3 separate regions of the Homo sapiens genome follow, and regions 2 and 3 are each linked to region 1. The links come from fine-mapping of genetic effects on gene expression. A gene starts in region 1. Each other region holds a variant in brackets. All regions are shown on one strand. Distances are from middle to middle.

Region 1 (2,765 bases):
AAAAAAACAAAAAAGGGTATGAGTCAGATTTTTTTCGTATTTGAAAATTAAATATACTTAGGTGGTCCTCTATTTACACAGTGTTCCTTATTTAATAGCAGATGGTTTTGTAAAGAGAATCACTATAAAATTATTCTATAAAGTTTTACATAAAATACTGGATTGTTAAAGGAGAGTAACTTCTGCTAAATACTCTTTCCGAAACCAAAAATAAGAAACAAAAAGGAGCCACTAAAGAACTAAACCGTTTATGACAAACATTGCTGCATAGAACAAAAGATTCTGCGACCTGAAGTTTCCCATCCTCAGATAACATAACGAGAACACACGAAATTTTTCCCATTGGATGTTTAGATCTAAAACACTTCCCACTCCTAGTTTATCTAGGGATGTGTATGTTCAATAGTGTGCAAATTATGCTGCATACACTTTATTAAGAAGGCCTAATTCCAGGTAGATAAATACGGTAAATTTTTTTTGACAGTATACCTGTCAGGGCAATACAGTACATTTTAAATTAGTGAAACCTTTGGTTGGTATGTTCAATCCTCACGTTCAGGAAGAGTTGGGACAAAGAACACAAAGCAGCTATCTTCAGACTGGACGCCTAAACCAGAGACAGTCATAGGGATGGAGCCTAACGGCTAGTACGAAGAGAGACAATACCCTTCCAAAATACACTTCAACATAAAGTTTTCTTTTCGTAAAGGAATGAAAACTGGTGTCCTTTGTACAGGTAACAAAAATGCGAACAGAACTAGAAATTCAAGCAAAGAGAGAAATCCTGACCTCAGAGTGCTAGTGTTCATTCATCACTGCTCAGCCCTCTACCACCCCCTCCAATCCCTTCCAATTTGGATTAAATTCTGACCATGGTGAAGTGGAATTTTACCTCCATGATCCCAAGGTCGAAAATCTTTCCCTGAGATGCTTCTGAAGCCAGTTTGTGGAGATTTTTGTGTTATGGACTGGGTAAGGAACAAGTGTTCTCCCAGTTCATTTGATAGAAGTCAAATCCCATCACCACAAACATTGTCACAGCAAAAGGTTTAGAGACCTTAGCTGATGGGACTTAAAAGCAATATTTAGAGAACTAGTGAGATTCATTTTAATTAACTCATACAGAACATTCTGCAAATTATAAAACTGTTCAAAGTTTCTAGAGTATATGTACAGATGTTGTATAATGACATACCTTTTGGAAGAGAAGGGGTTGAGTTTATGTCTTGGCTTTGACACCGAGTTATTAGAATCCTTTCTGGCAAGAAGGGAGACAAATTCAAGCATCAGAGTTACTGCATTTCAGAGTATGGATCCACTTTGTGCTGTCTTCCATGTACCACTCTGAAAGAGGGTGCAAGTTTACAGATCCATTAACTGTGCCTCCTCCTCCCCACCTCTTACTCCCTCCTCCAAACTAACCCTAGTCAGCCCTGCAGTCTGTAGGCAAACCACACAGGAACTAGCACATATGGGGCTTCGGAGAGTTGGGCGTGAGCCTTAGATTATGTGGTTTTGTTTTCTTGCTGCCAGAGTTGAACTAAAATGCAGGAGGTTCACTGAAACACTTTTGCTTCTTTATGCTTGGTTTCAGTTTTAACAATATCCCCCCTGAACACTTGTGTTCACATAAGAAAATTTATAGTTCTTGATATGGTCCATCAGCAAGCTGATCTTAAGGAAAACTCTTATTCTCTTAGTATAATCATGCATCCAGAGGAACATTAGGGCTTCTTGGGGGAACTTATTTAAGAGCACCCTCGATCACTCACAATGTTAAAATCCCAGGAAAGATGCTTTGTTCATACACTCAGCCTCTAATATTACTCTTGACAAAAAAAGAAGAAACATTCTGAGCTGGGATGCATTCTCACCCCAGGTTTGCCACAGTCCAGCATGAGGTGGAACCAGTTCCTTCAATTTCTGGGACTTCAATTTCTGTTGAGTCTTAGACTGAAGGCTTTCTGGGATTTAAGACTTTCCATTGACCTTGAGTTTTGTTACCTTCAACTTCCTTAGTTCTTACCTTTAAATGTACCACTCACCCTTCCCCCTATATCAACTGCAACTTGTGAAGGCCTCTTCCTTTCTCTTTGCTCTTGCTAGAAAATGGATTGCCAACGTTGCATCTTTTACAGAAAATTAGAGACATTGCTACTTGCTAAGTGGCACCATTCAGAGTTTGGGGACTGGATCCAAGATGAGGAGGGAAATGTTGGCTCACTGGGATGTTCCTAGCATTAATCCCTGGAATACCAAGAGGAGAGTGTCAAGGAGAGATTCAATTTGGGGTTCTAAAATTTAAACTTTTTCTGCAATGTGAAACGGCATCCTTTTCCATCTCTTTGCTTCTTTATATCTAAACCTTGCTTAAAATTTACTTTCTTAAAACCTTTTCCTTGGTTATAATTGCCCAACATTTTTATTGAAATAGAAAAGAAGAATCAGCAAAGTGTCAAGGTGACAGAAAATGCTCAGTAAATATTTGTCGAATGAGTTAAAGGAAGTAATTTTCTATCCATAACTCCTTTTTTTTTTTGAGACGGAGTTTCACTCTTCTTGCCCAGGCTGGAGTGCAATGGCATGATCTTGGCTCACTGCAACCTCCGTCTCCCGAGTACAAGTGATTCTCTTGCTTCAGCCTCCCAAGTAGCTGGGATTACAGGTACCTGCCACCATGCCTGGCTAATTTTTTTTGTATTTTTAGTAGAGATGGGGTTTCACCATGTCGGCCAGGCTGGTCTTGAACTCCTGAACTCAGATGA
Region 2 (2,765 bases), 76 kb before region 1:
TAAAAAAAAAAAAAAAATTCAGCCAAGCGTGGTGACGGGCGCCTGTAATCCCAGCTACTTGGGAGGCAGAGGCAGGAGATTTGCTTGAACCAGGGAGGTGGAGGTTGCAGTGAGCTGAGATTACACCACTGCACTCCAGCCTGGGTGACAGAGTGAAACTCCATCTTAATAATAATAATAATAATAATAATAATAATAATAATATGCATTTAAGGGTTTTCATCTTTCATAGCTTGGTAGCTTATTTCTTTCTAAATACTATTCTATTGTCTGGAGGTACCACAGTTTATTTATTCATTCACCTATTGTAGGACATTTTGGTTTCTTCTAAGTTTTGGCAATTATGAATAAAGCCACTATAAATATCCATGTCCAGGTCTTTGTGTGGATGTTTTCAGCACCTTTCAGTAAATACCAAGGAGTGTGAATGCTGGATCCTATGACCAGCGTAAGTTTAGTTTTGCAAGAAACCGTCGAACTCTCTTCCAAAGTAGCTGTACCATTTTGCCTTCCCACCATCAATGAATGAGAGTTCCTGTTGTTTCACATCATCACCAGCATATGGTGTTGTCAGTATTATAGATATGGGGCATTCTTATAGGTGTGTGGTGATATTTCATTGTTTTAATTTGTATTTTCCTAATGACATATGATATTGAGCATCTTTTTATCTCCTCACTTGCCATCTATATCTTCTTCCATGAGCTGTCCATGTCTTTTGCCCATTTTTAAATTGGGTTGTTCATCTTCTAATTGTGGAGTTTTTTTGTTGTTGTTGTTGGTTTTTTTTGTTTCTTACTTTCTTTCTTTCTTTCTTTCTTTTTTTGAGATGGAGTCTTGCTCTGTTGCCCAGGCTAGAGCGAAGTGGCAGGAACTTGGCTCACTGCAACCTCCACCTCCCGGGTTCAAACAATTTTCCTGCATCAGCCTCCCAAGTAGCTGGGATTACAGGTGCCCGCCACCAAACCCGGCTAATTTTTGTATTTTTAGTAGAGACGGGATTTCACCATCTTGGCCAGGCTGGTCTCAAACTCCTGACCTCATGATCCACCTGCCTCGGCCTCCCAAAGTGCTGGGATTACAGGCGTGAGCCACTGTGCCCTGCCTATTGTTGAGTTTTAAGAGTTCTTTGTGTATCATAGTCCTTTATCAGATATGTCTTCTGTACATATTTTCTCCTGGTCTGTGACTTGTCTTCTCATTCTCTTGGCATATGGTGGGAGTGTTTACACCATAGAATTGGCAAATACCACAAGTTAGGGCTTCTTCTTAGAGAGAGCCAATTATTAAATCTTTACCAGCACGTCACTGCATCTAGGCATCAACCATTTATTGACTGCACTGCATATCTTTGACCTAAAAAAGATTTGGTCTAGCAGAGGAGGCAGATCAGTGAATCACTGACAATGGTGTTCTGAGTATTGGGATAGAGGGAGAACAAGGTTACTACAGGAACATAAGTGGGGGTGGGGGAACGGGGGCACTTACATCAACCATAATATTGGGATGGTTTCCCAGTGGAGACCTGGAGCCCTGAGCTAATGATTTCAAAGTAAGTAACAGTTGTCTGGACCCA[C/A]GCTGCCCTATAAGGCAGCTCTTTGCCACATGTGGCAATTTCAGTCATTTATACCAGGCATATTTCAAGTATTCAATAGCCACATGTGGCTAGTGGCTAGTGGCTACCACATTGGATGGAGCAGATACAGAGCTTTTCCCTCATCACAGAAAGTCCTAATAGACAGCCCTTGTCTAGACAAAACAGTGGGAGAAAGCATTCCAGGCAAAAAGAACAGAATGTAGGAGACCAGAGGTCTTAGAAAACATGCCTCATTCTGGGAACCACAGATAGTTCTAAGGGACTGAAGTAAAGAGTGTTTGGGACTGGAGAGGTAGAAGATGTGGCTGAACGAACAAGGCAGCAGGCAGATCACAAAAGGCCTTTAGTGCGAAGCTAAGGAGGTTAAACTCCAGCCTGAAGACTATGGAGAACCCAAAGATTTGAGCAGGAGCTTGGTATCATCAGCCTGTCTGCGAATAAGATCTCCCTGACTGCGTTGGAGGCTGTATTACAGGGGGCCAGCCAGAAAGGCAGGGAGACGAGTGCTGAGACTATTGCAGTCATCAGGGAAAGAAGTGAGAGAGGTTTGAAGTAAGGCAGTGGCTGTGGAATGGGTGCAGAGAAGGGACAGAGTTGAGAGAATGTGAAGGACCCGATGGCTGATTGTGTCTGACCCTGAAGAGGTGCTTTGTAAATATTTGTTGACTTAATGAATGAATTACAGCAAAACTTAAAACAATAGAAGTGAGTGCACAGCTACTAGGCTTCTAGGTAGTATCTACTGCACAAATGGTGTGGTGCAGAGGACACCCTTGCCTTGGTATGGACAGGCTGAAGTGTTGACTTTAGACTGAGAAAACAGCAAATATTTTGACCATGCTAATCAGTCCCCAGTGTGGGCTGTTGTGTTTCAGGTTAGCTGTGAGCTAACGATGGCATGTAGGTACATTCCCCTTCTTTTGAGCTCAAGGAGAAAGAGGCAACAGGGAAGAGTGAGAAGAGAGAGACGGAGGGAAGGGTTGGTATCCCTTGTTCTGTCTGATGGAGGGAGGGCTCGGCTGAGAAGAGAGCCAGCTGTGCTCATGGAAGATGCTGAGGGAGCCAGGGTCCAAGCAGTGCCTCTCAGAATTGGGCACAGGCTGGCCATTCTCCCCTCTACCTCTTCCCCAATCTCCTTGTCATGTGGACTGCAGGGCAGATTTGGTGT
Region 3 (2,765 bases), 20 kb before region 1:
GGGTAGCTTTATGACTCTGCTCCCTTCCTTGACCCTGTGCCTCAGTCACAGCAGCCCCATGTAAGGCATGTAAGGTTACCTAAATTTACAATGTGCAAATCATCCCTGAGTGTTTCTTCTTGGACTATTCTCCTTTTTGTACTCCTCAATTCTTGCCATCCTTTAATATGGTGCAAATGTTACCTTCTCTGTAAAGCTGTTCCCTGAGCTTAATCCTCCCTCCCTTCTGCCCCAAGGGTACCCTGGCCTCATCTTCTCATTTCAAGTATGGCACCCAATGGAAAGGCATTTGTAATGATTTGTTTGCTTGTGTGTCTTCTCTCTCAAGCTGTAAGCTCTCCCAACTGAGAAGTATCTTCTTTGTGACTTTACAGCATAGCCCAGCCTCTGGCATACAGCAGTCACTTAGTAAATGTTGAATGAATAATGAATGAATGACCTATGGTCTCTTCTGGTTTGGCTTGTGCTAAACTATGCATCTGAGAATTAGGTGGTTTTGGCAATATGATGGAGTGAAACCAACTGACAATATGATGGAACTCAACTTTGCTCTTAAGAATAAGAAGTTTTGGGGAGGCTTAGGCTGGAGGATTGCTTGAGCCCAGGAGTTCGAGCCTGCAATGAACTATAATTGTGCCACTGCACTCTAGCCTGGGCAAAAGAGTGAGACCCTGTCTTGCAAAAATAACTAAATAAATAAATAATAAAAATAAAAACAATGGGTTTTAAACATTTGAGCTAATGGACCACAGATGATAAGGAATTTCAGTAACACATTTTCCTAGACAATATTTCTGTGTGTACTACATCTGGAGATGGTTCAAATAAATGATTAAAACATGTAAAACAGAACCATTAAGTAATCTAGATCATTTACTACAAAAGAGAAACTTGAAGAGACTTAATAATGGTTTTTAATAAAAGATTGTACTCCAAGGATGGCTAAACATCCTCCTTCTCCACAAACACAAAATAAGAAGAAATGAGATGAAAGCGCTTCAAAGATTAAAGTCAAAAACAAAAAGGAATTGAATGGTTTCCTGCCAGGCAGTGTAAACCCATTTCAAGTCACTATTACAGATAACTCACATTCGGAATCAGGCACAGCTCTAAATGCTTGCTATGTATTATGTCATCAATCAATCTAATTTTCATAATGAACCCATGCAAGTTTGTTTTAATTTTATTATTCCCATTGTACAGGTGAGGAAATAGAGGTTCAAGGTGGTTAAGCAGCTAACCCAGGTCACACAGCTGAGAAACCATAGAGCTGAAATTCAAATCCAGGCTGGCTGGCTTGTGAGGTTTTGGTCCGACTTCTAAGCTTCCTGCCTTGCTAGAGGCTGACATAGATGTCAGACCTCTGTCTGGGGATGGAG[G/T]CCTGAAGCTAAGCTCAAGAAAGCTCGAGAAGTTCAAGTGGCTAGCTTAAATTTAAACAAGAAAATCCTTGAATATACAAACGATTCTTCATTGCCAGGGCAACCAGCTCTCTTGAGGTCGTTACATCAGATTGTGTGTGTGTGTGTGTGTGTGTGTGTGTGTGTGTGTGTGTGTGTGTCTGTGTAGAGAAGTTAAATACCCATTTTTTGTATTCTTTATTCTGGTGAGCTGGCCTATCAGGTCTTGTCCTGCTAATGAGACAGTAAGTCGTTTTGACTTTTTTTTTGGCTGTCAGGGCATGCACGGTTTCAGCATCCACGTGTGTGTGTGTATTTATAAGACCTGACATGAATCGAGCCATATTTAGATATTATGACTTTACCTCCAGAGTGACGGAACTTACTCTGGGGGTTGGAGAGTCAGCATCTTCTTCCCTGTTATTTTTTCCAAGGCAAGCTTGTTTAGCCTGCCTCTGGGGCACATGAAGTGGGGTCACAGTCAGCACAGAATGGGGGCAGCATGTTCTGCAATTCAAATGCAACTCAAATGCCTGTGCCAAAGAAAGTCAACACTCATCTGATGGGCAGCAGAGAGGGGGCTCGAACACTGAGCTGCACCCCGGCTGCAGGAGGCCTGGAGGCTGGTTCCGGAGAACCAGGCAGCCCAGCAGGAGCCCCGTGAGAAGGGTGGGAATGAGTCACCAGACTTTTCAGGTTGATTGAGGTGATGTCTGTTGATTTTCTTTGAATTTAGATGTGTTATCAGTTCACACATTGGGCATAACGGGAAGAAGATGAGTGAACATTTTCTTGATAGTGCCTGACATTCAGCAGGGTTGTGATAAGATGTGGGGTAAGATATGACTCTGCAAGAATATGCTGGACAGTGTGTGTCCCCTAGCGTGTACCAAAGGAGCGGAGGCAGATGGACCCTCTTGGGAGAAAACAGTGTGACAAGCCCACTCTTTGTTCTCTGACAGACACAAGTTGGCCTGGGTGGATATTTACTATCTTAGGGCAAGGGGAAGAACTGCTAATTTGTCACACATTGTGTTCATGGTCTGGGAAAAGCACTTGCTTTTTTGACATTGGGTCCTCCACTACAACCAGATAGATTCTGAATGCTGTGGTTAAGAGTTAGGGTTTTAGGAGTTCGTATAATCTCTCTGGCCTCAGTTTCCTCATCTTTAAGATGGAAACAACAATGGCACTTATCCCCTTAGATAGGAATAAATAGACTAATACATATCAGGCACTTAAAACAATATATATCCAGCATTAAACTTGTATTTACATGAATGCATGCATCCTTATTTACACAACTTCATATTTATGGGAGGACTTACTCCAATGCTTGCTCAAGATAGATGCTTAGTAAATATTTGT

The links.
Region 2: its variant is fine-mapped to the expression of GRAP2 in whole blood (TOPMed, PIP above 0.99).
Region 3: its variant is fine-mapped to the expression of GRAP2 in whole blood (TOPMed, PIP 0.94).

Annotation. Positions count from the first base shown.
Region 1 is chr22:39,899,761-39,902,525 of GRCh38, reverse strand. It overlaps GRAP2 (GRB2 related adaptor protein 2), which reads right to left and starts at 1,442. Exons shown (of 8, transcript NM_004810.4): 1 at 1,196-1,442.
Region 2 is chr22:39,976,105-39,978,869 of GRCh38, reverse strand. No RefSeq gene overlaps it. Among named protein-coding and RNA genes, the nearest start is that of TMA7B, 17 kb to the right of the region's middle. The variant C/A (reference allele first, on the strand shown) is at 1,577.
Region 3 is chr22:39,919,737-39,922,501 of GRCh38, reverse strand. All of the region lies in intron 1 of GRAP2 (GRB2 related adaptor protein 2), which reads right to left. Among named protein-coding and RNA genes, the nearest start is that of GRAP2, 20 kb to the right of the region's middle. RefSeq lists an enhancer at 1,375-1,424. The variant G/T (reference allele first, on the strand shown) is at 1,380.